Linked DNA regions of Homo sapiens: region 2 is linked to region 1. Evidence: fine-mapped expression QTL. A gene starts in region 1. The other region holds a variant in brackets. All regions are shown on one strand. Distances are from middle to middle. Region 1 holds the start of RAP1B (RAP1B, member of RAS oncogene family). Region 2 overlaps RAP1B (RAP1B, member of RAS oncogene family).

Region 1 (9,438 bases):
TTTCTTTTTGAGACAGGGTCTTGCTCTGTCACCAGAGCTGGAGTGTAGTGGCATGATCATAGCTCACTGTAACTTCAAACTCGACTTGGGCTTAAGCCATCCTCCCACCTCAGCCTCCCAAGTAGCTGGGACAACAGGCATGTGCCACCACACCTGGCTAATTTTAAATTATTTTTGTAGAAACAAGGTCTTACTTGTTACTATGTTGCCCAGGCTGGTCTCCAGCTCTTGAGGTTCAAGTGATCCTCCCACCTCAGCCTCCCAAAGCGCTGGGATTACAGGCGTGAGCCACCACACTTAGCCGATTTTCACATTTTTAAATGGCTAAAAGAAAAAAAAAAAAAAAGAACATTTCGTGACACGTTAAAATTACTTGAAATTCAAATTTTAGTGTCCATAAATAAAGTTTTATTAGAATACAGTCAGGTCTATTCTTTATGTATTATCTATGGCTGCTTTTGTCCCACAACTGTAGAGTTGAGTGGTTGCAACAGAGACCATCTGTCTGGCCCACAAAGTCTAAAATATTTACTCTCTGGCCCTTGACAGAAAAAGTTTGCAAATCCCTATTCACAGGAAGGTCAAACACAAGTGACAAAGAAAAGCAGCAATAAAATGTTTCAGGGATTCTAAAGAGAAGAGAATACATAAGGTTAGAAGTATCAGAAAAGAAGCTCTTTTTTTTTTTTTTTTTTTTTGAGACGGAGTCTCACTCTGTAGCCCAGGCTGGGGTGCAGTGGTGCGATCTCTGCTCACTGTAACCTCCGCCTCCCGGGTCCCAGTTCAAGCAGTTCTTCTCCCTCAACCTCCCGAGTAGCTGGGATTACAGGCATGTGCCACCATGCCCAGCTAATTTTTGTATTTTTAGTAGAGATGGGGTTTCACCATGTTGGCCAGCCTGGTCTTGAACTCCTGGCCTCAAGTGATCCGCCCGCCTCTGCCTTCCAAAGTGCTGGGATTATAGGCTACCGCGCCTGGCCAAGAAGCTCATTCTTAAGAGAAAGTAGATAAACCTTGAATAATGGGCAAGGTATTTGCAGAATGAGATGGAATGGGAAGGGGCATTCCAGGCAGAGGAAATCATTCACCTATGCACAACAGAGAGATGGGGAAGCAAATTATGTGGGCCAGATGAAAAGTCCACTGTCCATTCTGACTATAAATCAGTTTTGAGTGAAAGGAAAAAGTGAGACACAGGATTTTAATTTTATTTTGGTAGAGTGGGGAGTAATTGAAGGCTCTTTGAGGAAGGGAGTGACTTGCTTGGTATGCTTTAAGATAATCATCTGGCAACAATGTATAGAATGGATCACAGCAGGAACAGACTGGAGGCCACCAGGCTGCAAAGGTCCAGGGGATGAGTTCTGCCAAACTAAATTTGGCAACTAAAAACTAAGTATGGTCTTAGTTGAAATGGAAAAGAGGAAACACAATGAAAGACCTTGTCGAATTACTATCTAATAGATATGCCAATTGATGGATTATTCAAGAAGAGCAGAGAGCTAAGTATCAGGCTTGAAGATTGGGTAATTTAAAAGATGGTGATACAATTCACAAAGGAAGAGGAAAAGAAACTGGTTTGGTTACAAAGACGATGAGTTCAGTTTGCACACATGACCAGTGCAAATTGCCAGTGGAATATCCTGGAGAAGAAGTCAAGGAAATAAATAGGAAAGAGGCTCAAACTGAAAAGTGAGTTCAGTGTTAAGAGATGCAGATTATGGTATTCTCTGCATAGTGATAACAGTTTAATACAAATAACAATGATTTCCAGTCTAATAAGAGAAACTGTGTTTTTAATTAAATAGATTATTTTACACGTTCTCTCAAACTCTAAAAATTCTAGCTTCAATTTTCTAAAACCAATTTCTTTCTGGAAAAAAAAAATCAATTGCCCAAAGGACAAAGAGTTTTTCTAAAAAAAGAAAGAAAGAAAAAGCACAGTGTTCCCAGGTAACACTTCTGTGAGCTCAAAGTTTCAGACTTTCAGTTATCAAATTTTTATGCAATAACTGAAAAGTTAGTAAAGTCAAATTTATTTGTAATTCACTCATTCATTGAGAAGTTACAGTAATTCCAACGGACTGCTCTGAAATTTGCCTTTGAAACTTTTATTTAAAAAGGTTTTCTAAAGAATGGATGTTAAGTGTTCTCATAAAAAAATGCTAACTCAAGGCCAGGCGCGGTGGCTCACGCATGTAATCCCAGCACTTCGGGAGGCCCAGGCGGGCGGATCACCTGAGGTCGGGAGTTCCAGACCAGCCTGACCAACATGGAGAAACCCCGTCTCTACTAAAAATACAAAATTAGCCGGGCGTGGTGGCGCATGCCTGTAATCCCAGCTAGTCGGGAGGCTGAGGCAGGAGAATCGCTTGAACCCGAGGGTGGGAGGTGGGGGCGGAGGTTGCAGTGAGCCGAGATCACGCCATTGCCTTCCAGCCTGGGCAACAAGAGCGAAACTCTGTCTCAAAAAAGAAAAAAAAAATGCTAACTCAGCCGGCGCGGTGAGTCACGCCTGTAATCCCAGCACTTTGGGGGGCCCAGGCGAGCGCATCACCTGAGGTCAGGAATTCGAGACCAGCCTGGCCAACATGGCGAAATCCCCTTTCTACTAAAAATTAGCTGGGCGTGGTGGCACGCGCCCGTCATCCCAGCTACTCGGGAGGCTGAGACAGGAGAATCTCTTGAACCTGAGAAGCAGAAATTCCAGTGAGCCGAGATCATGCCACTGCACTCTAGCCTGGGTGACAGAGCAAGACTCTCAAAAAAAAAGGTAACTCTGTGAGGTAATGTAACAATGTATACATTACTTCAAACGATCATGTTGTATACACAATAAATGCAGACAATAAACAATTTTTAAAAAGATATTTTTCTAAGGAAATAGAAATTATCGAAATAGGTAATCTACTCAATTAACCTAAATTGTAAAACATTATAAAACACAGAGAACTGTTATAATTCATTCTCATCTATTCATTTAACTTAGGTTAGCTTAGTTTTCAATCACTACATATTCTTAAACGGAGTGAAATTAGTCACATTCCATTTATCTTCCAAATTTATCAACGTTTATTAAGATTTATTTCAAGAATAATTTGTACAGGGCCTAATTAAATTATGAACCAAGAAAGTTAGTCTTAAATGACCCCTCAATCCCTTTTCCCTGCACTTTGCTCTCTTAATCTCCTCGCCCATCAAAACTGCTTCAAGAAAAAGTTCTGATAAATTTCTTGTACTAAGGGTAAGTAAGAATGGTAAATTCCCGTGTTAAGTTCCCGCCCTTTTTGGAACGAGGCATTTTGGAACAGAAAGTGTTTTCTGGTGCCCTGAAGTCACACGATAAACCTACTTGCCTATGGGTAATCCTGTGAAGTGAATAAAGCGTCCAGGACATGCATTTAAATACGCAATTTATTTTAGTTATATAAATGGCGTTGGTTTAGGTGCAGGGTACAAACTTATTTAGAAATCATCGATTTGTTAACTGCGTTTGGCATGGGAATTTGGAAAGAGTTCGCCCGGGTTAAGACACCAATGGATAAAACACTTGTCAATCCAGGAGAAAAGGCATCTCAAGAATGGAAAGACTTGCTGGCCCAGGCTCCCTCGGGGAGCTCTAGGTGTAGAAAATGCGCGCTCTCCGTTACTTCTCGGTTACTTTGCCCAGCACAAAGGACGACGCGAATACCAACAGACTGGACGAGTCGGTGACTACAGTTTGCATTAAGAGGCGGCGCCTTTTGGGTTTCGGAGGGTTCCACTGGAACCCACGAGGGTCAGGAACACCGACGCGCGGATTCCGCCCACCAGACAGCCTGGGGAAGCGAGCCTGAAGGCGCGGCGCAGCTAGAGAGAAGAACCTCGGCAGACATGCCGCCCAGAGGCAGCTAAGGGGCCCGTGGGCAGGGCCTGCGCTCCGGCTGCGATGCAGGCCGGCTAGAGGCCGGCGCCGAGGACCCGGCGCGCGGCGGCCCCGCCCCCTCGGCTCCCCTCGCCCCGCCCCCTAGGCCCGCCCCTTCCCGGGCCGCGCACCCGCGCGCCCCGCCCGCGGGCGGAAGCTGGAGCGAGGCTGAACGCCTGACGTCAAGGCGACATCGCCAAACCTCGCCCAGATTCAGGCGTGTAAACCAGCCGGAGCGGCGCGGCAGCGGCAGGACCGCCGTGGCGCCTAGAGTAGCGACCCGGGGGGAGCGCGGGGCGACGCTGGCTGCAGGGACCCGGTGACAGCGTGAGAGGTTCGCAGAGTGAGTGCGTGGCCGCTGAGGGAAGCCGCGGCGGCGGCCGCGCGGGGCCGGGCGCCGGCTGAGGGGAGCGGGTGGGGTGCGGCGAGGCGCGGGCCGGGCGCGGCGGTCAGGGGCCCCGGCGGCGGCAGCCCCTCGGCGCGCGGCAGGTGGCGCGAGGGCCAGGCGCCGGGCCCGCGAGCGCGCTGCCTTGCGGGCCGGCGAGGAGGAGCAGCCGCCGCCGCCGCGGGAGAACAGCGCGCTTTGCGGAAGGGGTCAAATGTCTGAAATATGGCGGAGGAAGTGAGAGCCCGAGGACCCCCCCACCCGCCCGCTCTCTTCAGCCCGCGTCCGCCGCAGCTTCTCCCGCCGCCCTCCTTTCCCCGCCGGCTCCCCCGAAGACTCGCTCCCCGCCCCGAGCCCCCTCGCTTGTCGCCTGGGTTCCCTCCGTGGTATGGGTGGAAGTTAGAACGGAAACCAGAAAGTTGTCCTTTGCGAAGACCTAGCTTCTCCCAGCCCCGAGCTAGGGCGAGGAGCCTTCGGGGGAAACCACTCCCAGGCGCCCCGCGGGCTTGAGCCTGACAGCGAAAAAGTTTGCCTGAAACGGGGCTTGCTTGCTCCATTTGTTGCGGGAAGTGGCAGGAGGAAGGCAGCGGAGAGAGCCCCACTTAGTCTGGCAGCAGCCACCGTGTAGAGAAAAACTGTTAAAGGGGCCTTTCCCTTCGTCAGCAAGAGGAAATCTCTTTCTCTTAGAGGGAGAGAAAATCCAGGAAGTTTGTCCTCTTCTCTTTTTCGCCATCTCGAGGTGTCTAATCCTAAAACTATCAGCGCCATGAATTTTATTTAAAACTACGCCCAGTGAACCGGGCTCTCCGGATTTTTCTTCTGAAAAACACTGATGTCTTTTGGAGAAAAGATCATTTTTGCAAGTTAAAGCAGATGGTTTCCTTCCCCTTCGCTTTCCCCCCTCTCCCACTCTCTTTAATAGTTTAGAAAAACATTTTGGCCCTGTAACTTCTGATTGGTATGAATAGAAGCAGTTCTGTGTTGCAGTAAGGGGAAATCACATTTTTACGGGGTAGAAAGTTGACACTAAATGAAGATTGTGATTTTAGTATTTTAAAATTAATTCCGTCTAATTGGATTTTGGTTTTGCAGGCAGCATCTCATATATGTCGAGTACTTAACAATTTAAAGCTCTGACTTGTAAATTTATTTTTCAGCTCTCTTTTTTCGTAATTAGAATACTGTTTGGACTTGCTCAACAAGACCTTATCTTAACAAAAAGTAACTTATAGAAAAGGGAGACATTCATTTAACTTCAAGCCCATATTATTCTTAAAAGCTGACTCTTGAAATAGTATTTATTGAGTCATAGTGGAGTCATGGGACTTTTTAAGGGCCGGAAGGGACTATTTAGATCATCCAGTCCCACCCTGTCATTTTATGGAGGAGGAAACTGAGGCCTAGATAAGATAACCAGTTAGTGGGTCCACTGACCTTTAGGACAGTAGTCTATCCGTAAGAGACAACATGGAGAAAGAAATACAACGTTTTTATAGTGAATTATCATCTTACAAAGAATATTCTTCCCATATCGCACTTTTAAAAAGTGGGTACCTTAGTCAAATAGGAGAAAAAACCACTTGAGTAGTTTCATCCTCAGGTTTTAGGTGAGGAAACTGATACTCAGATTAAATAACTTTAAGCACACAGAGCCTGAATGATAGTCTTATTTGAGCTCATCTGTGCTTTTAATGTGTACTACGTTAGGTGTTTTCACTTGCATTTCCTTTAGTCTTATTTGAGCTCATCTGTGCTTTTAATGTGTACTACGTTAGGTGTTTTCACTTGCATTTCCTTGTTTGACGTTGACAATAAATCGTGAAGCTGCCTTATCTAAGGAAGTCCTAAAGTAAATCATTGGAACACATGTAGCCAGTTTGTTGTTTTTAATATGCCAGGTATCAAAATATAACTGAAGAACCAATGCTAAACTGACTTAATTTTAAAATGTTGTATGGGGCATGAAAATGATTGCTCTGGCTGGGCGTGGTGGTTTACGCCTGTAATCCCAGCACTTTGGGAGGCCGAGCCGAGGAAGGCGGATCATTTGAGGTGAAGAGTTCGAGAACAGCCTGGGCAACATGGTGAAACCCCGTCTTTACTAAAAATACAAAACATAGCCGGGTGTAGTGGCACGCGCCTGCAATCCCAGCTATTCGGGAGGCTGAGGCACGAGAATATGAACCTGGGAGGTTCACATTGAATGAACCAGCTTGAACCTGGGAGGCGGAGGGTGCAGTGAGCCGAGACTGCACTACTGTACTGCAGCCTGGGTGACAGAGCTAGACCTGTCTTAAAAAAAAAAAAAAAAAAAGGAGATAAGAAAATGATTGCTCTGCTCTCTTTTACATTCTCCCCTCACCCACGACCGCGTGAAAGTCATCTCTCTTACCTTCTATGACACGCATTACTTCCTGCCTCCTGTTACCATTTTATATTATTTATTCCATTGAATTGTGAACTCCAACCACAAGATATATATTGTTTTGTATGCCTTAACGCACTGGCATGGTGCCTTGCAATAGACATTCAACACCAGTTAAATGTAAGTACCATGAGGGTAGGGACTTAATCCATTTCATTCTTCACAGTAATCTTCCTAGCGCGTTGCCTGGGCACAGTGTAGCGCGTTGCCTGGGCACAGTGTAATGGTTAGCGTTTGAATTTAGGGATTAATGGTAATGAACATTCAAAGAGAGGATATTTGAAGAGAACAGTGTAATCCTTTAAAAAGAAACATTTACATATTGGCTTTGGAATCCCTTTTACTTGACAAATTAATTTTCGTTTTATCCTCAATCCTTTTCAGAATTCCAATATTTTCTCTTAGCTGTATAAAGGTAAAGTGACCCCCTCCCATAATAAAGAGCTACCATGTAAGGAGGGTATAGCAAAGAATTAATTATTAAAATAACTAGATCCATTTTTGTAAGGATCCTTTCAATTGTATCTTCCTATCTAATTCAAGATTGGTGGAAGGTCTATGCAAAGATTGATAACATGGTAACTGATTAGACATGTTATTTTAAATGCAGTCCAAGATTTGGATGAAAAGCTCACGTTCAGGTTTTTTTTGCCTTTTGTTGTAGGTACTCGATAAATATTTATTGAGGTAGTGAAACTAATCTGAAATTGGATCTGATACAGAGAATTTGACCGATTTTACAAGGTGTCCATTTACTTTTTCCCCATAAGTATTGTTTAAATAGGCTGTTTTATTATCGACTATCACACAGATCTTACTGATTTGCCTCATTTCCTTAAAGATGTAAAATAACTGTGTTTCTCTGTATGTTTGTGTTGCTAAAGAGGAGGTTGGGTATTGATCTGCAGTTTCTAGATTTGACTGGCACTAGGAGTAATTTAGCATTTATGAATTAGCTATTTACTGCTGTTTTATAGCAGTGATGTCACGTGTTCACTCTATAGAAAAGTTAGGTAAAGATTGGTCTGTCTTAAACTTTCTGAGACATAGGTTGTGACTAAAAATATGCCCTGGGTTTTCTTCCCCCTCCTGTCATTATTGAGGACTCCATGGTCTAAGAGATTAGGCTGAAGTTTTTGTTAGCCTTTTCAAATTGAATTGAATTTTAGAACAAGTTAAGACATTTTGGCTGATGCAGTGATTCATTGTAACATTGGACAAAATTTTTAGTTCAGCCATCTGTAAACAGGAGTACTGTACCATGGCTCTGGAAGCTAGTGTTTTTCTGTGTTCATAGATTATTTTGCAATGGTATTGAAAGGTACTAATTGCCATTTGAGGTCTTAAGTTCTTTGTAAATCTCATAAGCACAGTGGAAGCAGTAGCTACAAAGAATAGATGAATTTATCCATTTGCAGTAAAAACTGATTTGTATGTAATCTGTTGTACTTTGAACCCAGTTGAGCACTGGATTCTAAAACAAGTCTCTTTGGTCGTGGAGAGTTTCTATTTTAAACAAGAAAAGTTATCAGGAACTTTTGTGCTGCCTTAAAAACATCACTTTTTAAAATTCACCAGCAACAAAAAATAGTATCACTTACATTCCGTATTTCATAACATTGGACTATTTATTCCTAATGTTGGTCAAATCAAGGGTACAGTAGCAACTGATTATTTAAGCAGTAATTTAGAAAGATTTTTTTTCCTTTGAATCAGTAGAGGGTCAAAATTTTTAAAACTTTCCAAAGAACCTTAAAACAGGAAAAAATGAAAATGTGGGGGAAATGTACCAGTTTTTTTTAATTTAAATTCCCTAAAATAAAAATATTTACAACATGAGTTACAGAATTTCCATCTGATTTTTATTGTACAGGAGGAGTATATTCTGTGATATCAGTATACAATTCAAAATACAAAAAATTACCTGGGCGTAGTGGGAGGTGCCTGTAATCCGAGCTGCTTGGGAGACTGAGGCAGGAGAATCGCTTGAACCTGGGAGGCGGAGGTTGCAGTGAGCCAAGATCGCTCCACTGCACTCCAACCTGGGCGACAGAGTGAGACTGTCAAAAAAAAAAAAATTACTTAGATTGTGTATGAGGTGCCTGCATACTAGAAATGTTCTTTTGAGTTACAAATCTGTCTCTCTGACCATAGAGAGTAATTATTTAATCTTGTGAGTTTGAGTTTTATATCAAACCATTTCCTAAAGCTTACTTGTAATTACTTTTACTTTATGTTTTTGTAGTTATACATGTGTATATATATACACATACATACACACACACATATACATATATCAGTGAGACCTTTTAAATTTTAGCTGAATTCTGGTTTCATAACTTGTGATTTTTTTTCCGGTACTGGGGGATTGAATGTTTTTAACTGTTGTGCAGATAGACTGAATAAAGGAAGTGAGCATCCATTAAAAACTCTAGTAAATAATTTGGATTTTTTTTTTTTTTGAGATGGAGTCCCACTCTGTCGCCCAGGCTGGAGTGCAGTGGCACGGTCTCCGCTCACTGCAAGCTCCGCCTCCAGGGTTCACGCCATTCACCTGCCTCAGCCTCCCGAGTAGCTGAGACTACAGGCGCCCGCCACCACACCTGGCTAATTTTTTGTGTTTTAGTAGAGACGGGGTTTCACTGTGTTAGCCAGGATGGTCTGGATCTCCTGACCTCGAGATCCACCTGCCTCGGCCTCCCAAAGTGCTGGGATTACAGGCGT
Region 2 (9,438 bases), 42 kb after region 1:
AACAGGGTCTCACTCTGTTGCCCAGGCTAGGGCTCAAGTGATCTCAGCCTCCTGAATGCTTGGGACTACAGGCACGTGCCACCATGCCAGGCTAATTTTTAAAATTTTTTGTAGAGATGGCGTCTTGCTATATTGCTTAGGCTGGTCTTAAACTCCTGGCCTCAAGTAATCCACCTTTGCCTCCCAAAGTGCTGGAATTACAGGCATAAATCACCATGCCTGGCTTGCTCTTTCTTCTTATGAATAGTCTTACCCTGTACATTTTATGTTAGAAAATATCAAAGCTTATAAAAAGTCTTCAAATATTACCTTTGACTGTCCAGCTTTACATTTTTTAACGGCACGTTTTCTGCATCAAGGAATGGTATAGCAAGAATGAAGACATAACTGGGTAATGAGGGTTGGGAAAGAGGAAAAACGTAGGGAAAATAATTTGATGAATAGTTCAGAGCTTAGCAAAGCCTCACAAGCAAATAGATTGACCTTCTGTCTCACTCATAAGATAAACCATCTTGGCCACTTAGAAAGGCCACCTAGCTGAGAAGTGTCATGCTTGGAACAAACTGAGAAGTACATACAATGTGAAATGAACTGCTTTTTCATTTGTATCCAAAGTGATGGGGAGGTCAGTTGATCCTGCATGTATGTGTGTATACATAACAATTAGTCAATTTCTAATTTAAAAATCAAATTTAAGCTCTTAAGACTGAAACAATGCCGGCACAGTGGCTCACGCCTGTAATCCCAGCACTTTGGGAGGCTGAGGTGGGCGGATCACCTGAGGTCAGGAGTTCGAGAGCAGCCTGGCCAATATAGTGAAACCCCGTCTCTACTAAAAATATAAAAATTAGCCAGGTGTGGTGGTGCATGCCTGTAATCCCAGCTACTCGGGAGGCTGATGTGGGAGAATGGCCTGAACCCGGGAGGCAGAGGTTGCAGTGAGCCAAAATTGCGTCACTGCACTTCAGCCTGGGAGACAGAGCAAGACTCTGTCTCAAAGAAAAAAAACAAAGGACTGAAACCAGAGACATTTAAAATTTTTTAATATATGATCTCTAAATTTAGAATTACCCAATAAGGAGCATAGTGATTATTTATTTAAAAATAAACAGCTTCCTGAGGTAATTTTCTTACCAAATGTACACATTCGAATGTAGTATTGGCTGTGGTTTTTTTTTTCATTGATGGTGTAACTCCCTGTGTGAACTCAGTTTACAATTACATTAAAGATTGAATGTACTCTTTTCTTTAGAAGTATAATGGTTTCTTAATTTTTTTTTCAGACTGTACAATTTGTTCAAGGAATTTTTGTAGAAAAATACGATCCTACGATAGAAGATTCTTATAGAAAGGTATATATTACTTTGGAAGGCCTTTTGCTTTTGATTTTAATATAAATACTTATTTTAGCTTTATAATTATTGAATGTTTTATACAAAGGATGGAGGCAGAGTTAATTTATAAAATTAGTGGGAAAAGTTTACACTTTCTGGCATTGCATAGTTACCAGTTTAAGAGGATCATAAACACCCATACTCTCACATATTCACAGAATTTTTTGTAATTTGACACATAAACTTTAAAGCAGACCATCCATTTCAAGTAGTAGCCCCATGTTACTTTCAGTCCCCTACCTAGCAAGACTGATTACTCTCAAGCTCCCTTCTTTTTAACCTAGAAATAGGTGGACACAGGTCTTCCTAAGCTTTCTACTTACTAACCTCTTGAGAAAGTGCCACCACTCACAATACTGGTTGAATATCCCTTATCTGAAATAACTGGGACCAGAAGTATTTCAGATTTCAGATTATTTTCTGATTTTAGAATATTTGTATATACATAATGAAATAGAATGGGACCCACATCTAAACAATTCATGGTTTCATATACACCTCATACACATAATCTTACATAATATTTTTAATATTCTTATGCATGATACAAAGTTTTGGCTGCATTTTGACTGTGACTGGTCACATGAGCTCATGTGTGGAATTTTCCACTTGTAGCGTGATGTTCCACACATGGCTCAAAAACTTTTGGATTTGGAACATTGCAAGTTTTGGATTTTTAGATTAGGGATGCTCAGCCTATAGAAAGGTGAATTCCTGTGTCCACTAACAGCATGTGACAATAAAACAATGTGTAGACATTTTTAACTTAGTAGGGAAAGAGGTATTTCCCAACCTCTATGAAGCAGCCAACCTGGCCCCGCTGTTGCACAAATACTGTGTTTCCATTCCTCCCTCCATGTGCATAGTCTACCAAAAAAAAAACTGGAAACTTTTGCACCCCAGCTGTGAGACAGTATTACTCTTTTCTTTCTACATCTAATTCTAAATACCTATTTTTCCCTAGGAAATATTAGATGGAAAGGGGTAACAGGGATATATGTGTAATTTATTTAATAGCTGTGCCACTGCTTCCTTAATTCCAGAAATCTTGTTCCAGTATGGTGAGGGCATATAGTTACCTAGAGAAATGAGGTATATCTAAAGTATCATGGGAGAATTTAGACAGAATTACTTATGATACTGTTGGAACTGTTGCTGGTTTTGTTTGTTTATTTGAGCTATTTCGAAACTATTTTTTTCTCTAGAATTAAGTGCTGAGAATCCATATTGAGACTGGTTCGTGTAGGTTTCCCTGTGTTGACTTGAGAACACATGGCTTTTGAACTTGATTACAATTTGGGGGTCTTTGAATCTTGATTACTTAGCTATTTTTCCTCCTGCTTTGTTGAAGTATTGCTGGATATTAGTTTGTAAAGTTGTTAAAATCTGTGTGTCTTATTTTTGATACATTAGCTTTTTTGTGTATATTAAGGTAGTTTTATGTACATTGAAAAAATGAACATGTATTTTAATTTTTCTACCAGCAAGTTGAAGTAGATGCACAACAGTGTATGCTTGAAATCTTGGATACTGCAGGAACGGTAGGTAAAACTAAATACCAAAGTATATACACCGTTTGTACAGTATTGACTTCATAAATGCTAGTACTCTATAGACAAATATTAGTTAAGCTTATTTAAAAGTACTGCTTGCAGCCGGTTGTAGTGGCTCACACCTCTATTCCCAGCACTTCGGGAGGTCAAGGTTGCTGGATCACTTGAGGTCAGGAGTTCGAGACCAGCCTGGCCAACATAGTGAAACCCCATCTCTACTAAAAATACAAAAATTAGCCAGGTGTGGTGGTGGGAGCCTGTAATCCCAGCTACTCAGGAGGCTGAGGCAGGAGAATCTCTTGAACCCAGGAGGCAGAGGTTGCAGTGAGCCAAGACTGTGGAGATTGTGCCACTGCATTCCAGCCTGGGTGACAGAGCGAGACTCTGTGTCAAAAAAAAACATAAGACTACTAGTTGCTAAACTTTAAATCTTTTTGTTGTTGTTCCGTTGAATCCTTAATTTTATATTGGCCGGGCGCAGTGGCTCACGCCTGTAATCCCAGCACTTTGGGAGGCCAAGGTGGGTGGATCACTTAAGGTGAGGAGTTCAAGGCCAGCCTGGGCAACACAGTGAAACCCCGTATCTACTAAAAATATAAAAAAAATTAGCCGGGCGTGGTGTTACACACCTGTAATCCCAGTTACTTGGGAGGCTGAGGCAGGAGAATAGCTTGAACCCGGGAGGCGGAGGAAGTATATTGCACTTTTTGTAATTGCAGTGGGTCAGTTATTGAAAAGTTTAGAAAATGTGTTAGAAGAAAAATTTTCAGTCTCACTAGTACTTTTAAAACAATATATTACCATATTTCAAATAATACAGGCATACATTCATTCATCAGCAGCTGTGTGAAATATTTTGATTGAGCTGGGTATGATGGCTCATGCCTTGTAATCCCAGCACTTTGGGAGGTCAAAGGGGGGTGGATCACCTGAGGTCAGGAGTTCAAGACCAGCCTGGCTAACATGGTGAAACCCGTCTCTATTAAAATACAAAAATTAGCCAGGTGCAGTGGCAGGCACCTGTAGTCCCAGCTACTCGGGAGGCTGAGGCAGGAGAATCGCTTGAACCCTGGAGGTAGAGGTTGCAGTGAGCTGATAACACACCACTGCACTCCAGCTTGGGTGACAGAGTGAGACTCCATTTCAAAAGAAAAAGAAATATTTTGATTGGTATCTGTTCTCCTTCAACGTATTTATAGACAAACTAAATTTGTAGGTATGTGAAGATGAAGGGAAGATTTGTTCTCGGTGTATGGTATTCATTCAGCTAATGTTTGAATACCTGATACATGTCAGGCACTGTGTTGTTACCTTCAAATGCTCACAGTCTAGCAAAGAAAAAGTAGTGTGGGAAAATGGGATGGTCTAGATCATGCTGATGGAGCCCTACAGAACTACAGCATTTGAGTCATAGCTAATAGATTAACTTGGCAGATACAGTTGGGGTGCTTT[A/G]TACATGATGATGTATTTTAAAAGCTGCCTTTAGTAACTTTTGGGGACAGGATATTTCTGTTCCACTTGAGTATATTTTTTGTATATAAATCGACTTTGGTGTATTGTTTTTAAATAGGAAACCTATTTCCAGCTGGGCGTGGTAGTTCACGCCTGTAATCCCAGCACTTTGGGAGGCCGAGACGGGCAGATCACAAGGTCAGGAGATGGAGATCATCCTGGCTAACATGGTGAAAGCCCGTCTCTACCGAAATACAAGAAAAAAATTAGCCGGGCATGGTGGTGTGCGCCTGTTGTCCCAGCTACTCGGGAGGCTGAGGCAGGGGAATCACTTGAGCCCGGGAGGCAGAGGTTGCAGTGAGCCGAGGTCGCGCCACTGCACTCCAGCGTGGTGACAGAGCAAGACTCCGTCTCAAAAAAAAAAAGAAACTAAAATGCCAATTTTTTCAAATAGTATCTTGTCATAGATTATAATTTTAACAAAGTTACATAATACTACAGTATTCTTCATTGAGCTATAATTATAGACTGTGAAAATTGTAAAAATAACTGTCAAAACATTATTGTTTTTTAACGTTCCTTTCTTTCTATTGTAGGAGCAATTTACAGCAATGAGGGATTTATACATGAAAAATGGACAAGGATTTGCATTAGTTTATTCCATCACAGCACAGTCCACATTTAACGATTTACAAGACCTGAGAGAACAGATTCTTCGAGTTAAAGACACTGATGATGTAAGCTGACTTCCAAATAAATATATTTTATTTCAAAACCCTGATTATAATTGTTTAAGTCTAAATTTAAATTCATTTTAAAGCTTGTGTATTTTGGTTGGGGGGGGGGTGTTGGTTTTTTTAAACTTTTTCCTTGAAAGGCAAAAATACCCATACATGTTTTCAAATATATATCATGTGGAAAGTGAGAAATTTCCTCCTTTGCCATTATCCTGTGAAAATTAAATGTTACACCCTTCCTTTTTTTTTTTTCCTTTGAGATGGAGTCTTGCACTGTTGCCCAGGCTGAAGTGCTGTGGTGCGATAGCTGTACCTCCCGGGTTCACGCCATTCTCCTGCCTCAGCCTCCCGGGTAGCTGGGACTACAGGCGCCTGCCACCATGCCCAGCTAGTTTTTTGTATTTTTAGTAGAGACAGGGTTTCACCATGTTAGCCAGGATGGTCTCGATCTCCTGACCTTGTGATCCGCCTGCCTCAGCCTCCCAAAGTGCTGGGATTTTAAAGGCAAGAAATACATTAGATTCTAACATTATTAATTTAGGTGCCCCTTCAGAGTCTACCATAATGGAGTTTAATTCCTCATCACACTAAATATAGCAGTGGTTCTCAAAATTGATTTTGCATCAGAATCACCTGTAGGACCAGTTAAAACAGATTGCTGGGCTGAGATCTCAGAGCTTCTGATTCAGTAGGTCAGCAGTAGGACCCAGGAATTTGCATTTCTAACAAGTTTCGAAGTGGTGTTGGTTTTGCTGATCTGCATACTGTAAGAACCAGGCTGGGCATGGTGGCTCACACCTCTAATCCCAGCACTTTGGGAGGCCAAGGCGGGTAGATCCCCTGAGCTCAGGAGTTCAAGACCTCCCTGGGCAACATAGCAAAACCCTGCCTTTACCAGAAATTTAAAAAAAAAAAAATTAGCCAGCATGGTGGCGCGTGCCTGTGGTCTCAGCTATTTGGGAGGCTGAGGTGGGAGGATCACTTAAGCCTGGGAGGTGGAGGTTGGCAGTGAGCTGAGATCACATCACTGCACTCCATCTAGGGTGACATAGTGAGACCCTGTCTCAAAATAAATACATAAATAAGACTCATTGTACTGCAGTTTAATTTTAGCAAATATTGTGAGAGCTGGGAGACACCCATGGTAAATGCTTTTATTTTCTGGACTTCTGAAACAAGGGAATTTGGGGGGACCCTACATAATTACAGCAACCTCAGGGAACATTTTTTAATTTGTAAATCCATTTAATAAGTGGCTTGATTTTTAGTAAATTTTGATTGGCTTTTTTTTTTTTTTTTTTGAGACGGAGTCTCACCCTGTCGCCCAGGCTGGAGTGCAATGGCACGATCTCAGCTCACTGCAACCTCTGCCTCCCAAGTTCAAGCAATTCTCCTGTGTCAGCCTCCCAAGTAGCTGGAATTACAGGCGTGTGTCACCATACCCAGCTAATTTTTGTGTTTTTAGTAGAAACAGGGTTTCGCCATGTTGGCCAGGCTGGTCTCCAACTCCTGACCTCAGGTGATCCACCCGCCTCGGCCTCCCAAAGTGCTGGGATTACAGGCGTGAGCCACTGTGCCTGGCCTTGATTGACTTTTTTAATACAAGACTATGAGAAACTAAAAATTCTATTTTGGGAGCCTTCCGTCCATTATGATAAAATTTTAAGGTTTTTTCCCCCCATCTCTCATAACAGGATCATAGCTTGTTTTCTCAAAAGTTTATGTAAAAGTGTCTTATTTATGTCTACATTGACTAGGTTGTGTTCATTTTACTTAACATATGAGAGTTTTCTTTCTCTCTTTTCTTCCCTTTGGAGTTATCGTTTGCATCTCCATGAAAAGAGAAGGCAGTGGAGATAATTGACATCAAAGTTAATACTTATGTTTATGTTACAGATTAAATTGTTAAGGCTGTAAATTTTATTATACATTATTTAATATTTTTTGTGGCATATGAAAAGTAATTCTTAGATTTGACTCTTAGAATTCTTTTGATTTGAATTCATATAGCATATTTACTTATTTATTTTTACTCTCACAAATGTATTTTTAGGTTCCAATGATTCTTGTTGGTAATAAGTGTGACTTGGAAGATGAAAGAGTTGTAGGGAAGGAACAAGGTCAAAATCTAGCAAGACAATGGAACAACTGTGCATTCTTAGAATCTTCTGCAAAATCAAAAATAAATGTTAATGAGGTATGGTCAAATATACTTAAAATGGGTCTTCATTTGAAGTACAACATTGAAGATGAATGGAAAATGTCTTAACCCCAAGTTAATATGTACTCAGGGTAATATGTTGATGTTACAGGCAAAAAAAAAAAACCCTCATGTTAAATGTATCTATGTAGTAAATAAACAATACTATTTCAGTCTCTATTAAATACTTGTACATTGATATTTACCATGAAAAAGGAAGACTGGACAGAAAATACATGGATAGGGAAGACAGATTAAGACTTCAGGTATATGAAGGATGTTATATGAAAAATAGAGTAAAATTCCGAAAAGTATGCATGGTTCTTGAAAGGCTCCAAGTCATGTTGTAGAGCAAAAACTTACAGTTTTTAAAAGGATTTTTTCTTTGTGTGATGGTAAATGTTCTAATTGAACTAAGTTAAGATCTCTGCAGCTCCTTCAACTAAGTATTTTAAGGAGCACAATATTAACACTCCCCAAAAATTTGAGCTTGGCAGTTATAACACCTGATTTTATTCTCATTCCTTAGCTGAACAATTCTGGGCATTAATTTATATCCATGGAAATTTCTGTTTTTTCAATTTACTTTTTTCATTGGGGGGGATAGGTGTTCCTCCTGTAAATTAAAACAAATTATTGTATTTGCAGATCTTTTATGACCTAGTGCGGCAAATTAACAGAAAAACTCCAGTGCCTGGGAAGGCTCGCAAAAAGTCATCATGTCAGCTGCTTTAATATACTAAATGCATTGTAGCTCTGAGCCAGGTATGTTCACTTATCTTTCCTCTAACTTTTAATCACTCAACCTTATTAAGGGCACTCTGTCATGAAAGCAAGTATAGACTTCTTTTTGTTGGTTCTGAAAAATAAATGGTTTATTTTTATAAGATATCCATGAGTTAGTATGCTATCTTATTAATTATTTACTTATCATCATGAGTAAAGTATTTCACATAAGTATTCTTTTTTTGAGATGGAGTTTCACTCTGTCACCCAGGCTGGAGTGCAGTGGCGCAATATCAGCTCCCTGCAACCTCCGCCTCCCAGGTTCAAGCAATGCTTCTGCCTCAGCCTCCCGAGTAGCTGGGATTACAGGCACGTGCCACCACGCCCGGCTAGTTTTTTTGTATTTTTAGTAGAGATGGTGTTTCACCATTGTTGGCCAGGATGGTCTCAATCTCTTGACCTCGTGATCTGCCCACCTCGGCCTCCCAAAGTGCTGAGATTACAGGCGTGAGCCACCACTCCCAGCCAACCCCGTCCCTAATTTAAAACACACACACACACACACACACACACACACACACACACACACACACACGTGCGCGCGTGCGCGTGAGCCACCGCTCCCAGCCAACCGTCCCTAATTTAAAACACACACACACACACACACCCCTGACATGTTCATCATGTGCCAGTCACACACACACACACACCCCTGACATGTTCATCATGTGCCACTTTTTTTTTTTTCCTTCAACTTTTAAGTTCCAGGATACATGTGCAGGATGTGCAGGTTTGTTACATAGGTAAAGGTGTACCATGGGGTTTGCTGCACAGATCTTGCATCGGTACCTGGCACATAGTTAACACTCAACTATTAGCTGCTGCTGTTTGCCAATGATAATGGTTTCCTCTTCAGCTGTCATTAAACTGTTTATTGTTAAACTGTTAATTTATTCTTAAGAACCTTTGACATTCCTGACTCTTATTTCTTCCTATGTTAATTGACTCAGTGCTGCCATAGCACTTTGATTCTGCATCTTTTCAGAGTTTTTATTCCTGCCTTCCATCTAGGGCTTTCTGTTTAGTGGTATATCCTCTCATTCTAATATCCTATAATTCCTGACCACATGCCCATTCTTAGCAGCACACATGTGCTTGAGCTCACACACTTCCATCTGTCCTTTTTAATTTGCAACAGTCTGCCAGGATTTAGAAAACTTGATTGCAAACCTCATTCAGACTCAGAATGAGGACCTAAAGTTCTAGGCATTTGTGAAAATTATTTCAACAGCCACATATGTATTAACAACTCTTCTGGAGCTTGTAACAAGTCTGATCACCAGAAAAATATAATAGGGAACATTTTTTTAGCCGAG

The links. PIP is the estimated chance that this variant, and not a neighbour inherited with it, causes the effect. A credible set is the group of variants that fine-mapping cannot tell apart.
Region 2: its variant is the best candidate, but not a certain one, in a credible set for the expression of RAP1B in whole blood (TOPMed, PIP 0.51).

The regions. Positions count from the first base shown.
Region 1 is chr12:68,606,806-68,616,243 of GRCh38, forward strand. RAP1B (RAP1B, member of RAS oncogene family) reads left to right here and starts at 4,094. Exons shown (of 8, transcript NM_001010942.3): 1 at 4,094-4,238. RefSeq lists a silencer at 3,951-4,410 and an enhancer at 8,882-9,438.
Region 2 is chr12:68,649,117-68,658,554 of GRCh38, forward strand. RAP1B (RAP1B, member of RAS oncogene family) reads left to right here. Exons shown (of 8, transcript NM_001010942.3): 3 at 1,284-1,352; 4 at 2,879-2,935; 5 at 4,996-5,136; 6 at 7,190-7,333; 7 at 7,985-8,101. The coding sequence ends at 8,071. Among named protein-coding and RNA genes, the nearest start is that of SNORA70G, 26 kb to the left of the region's middle. The variant A/G (reference allele first, on the strand shown) is at 4,400.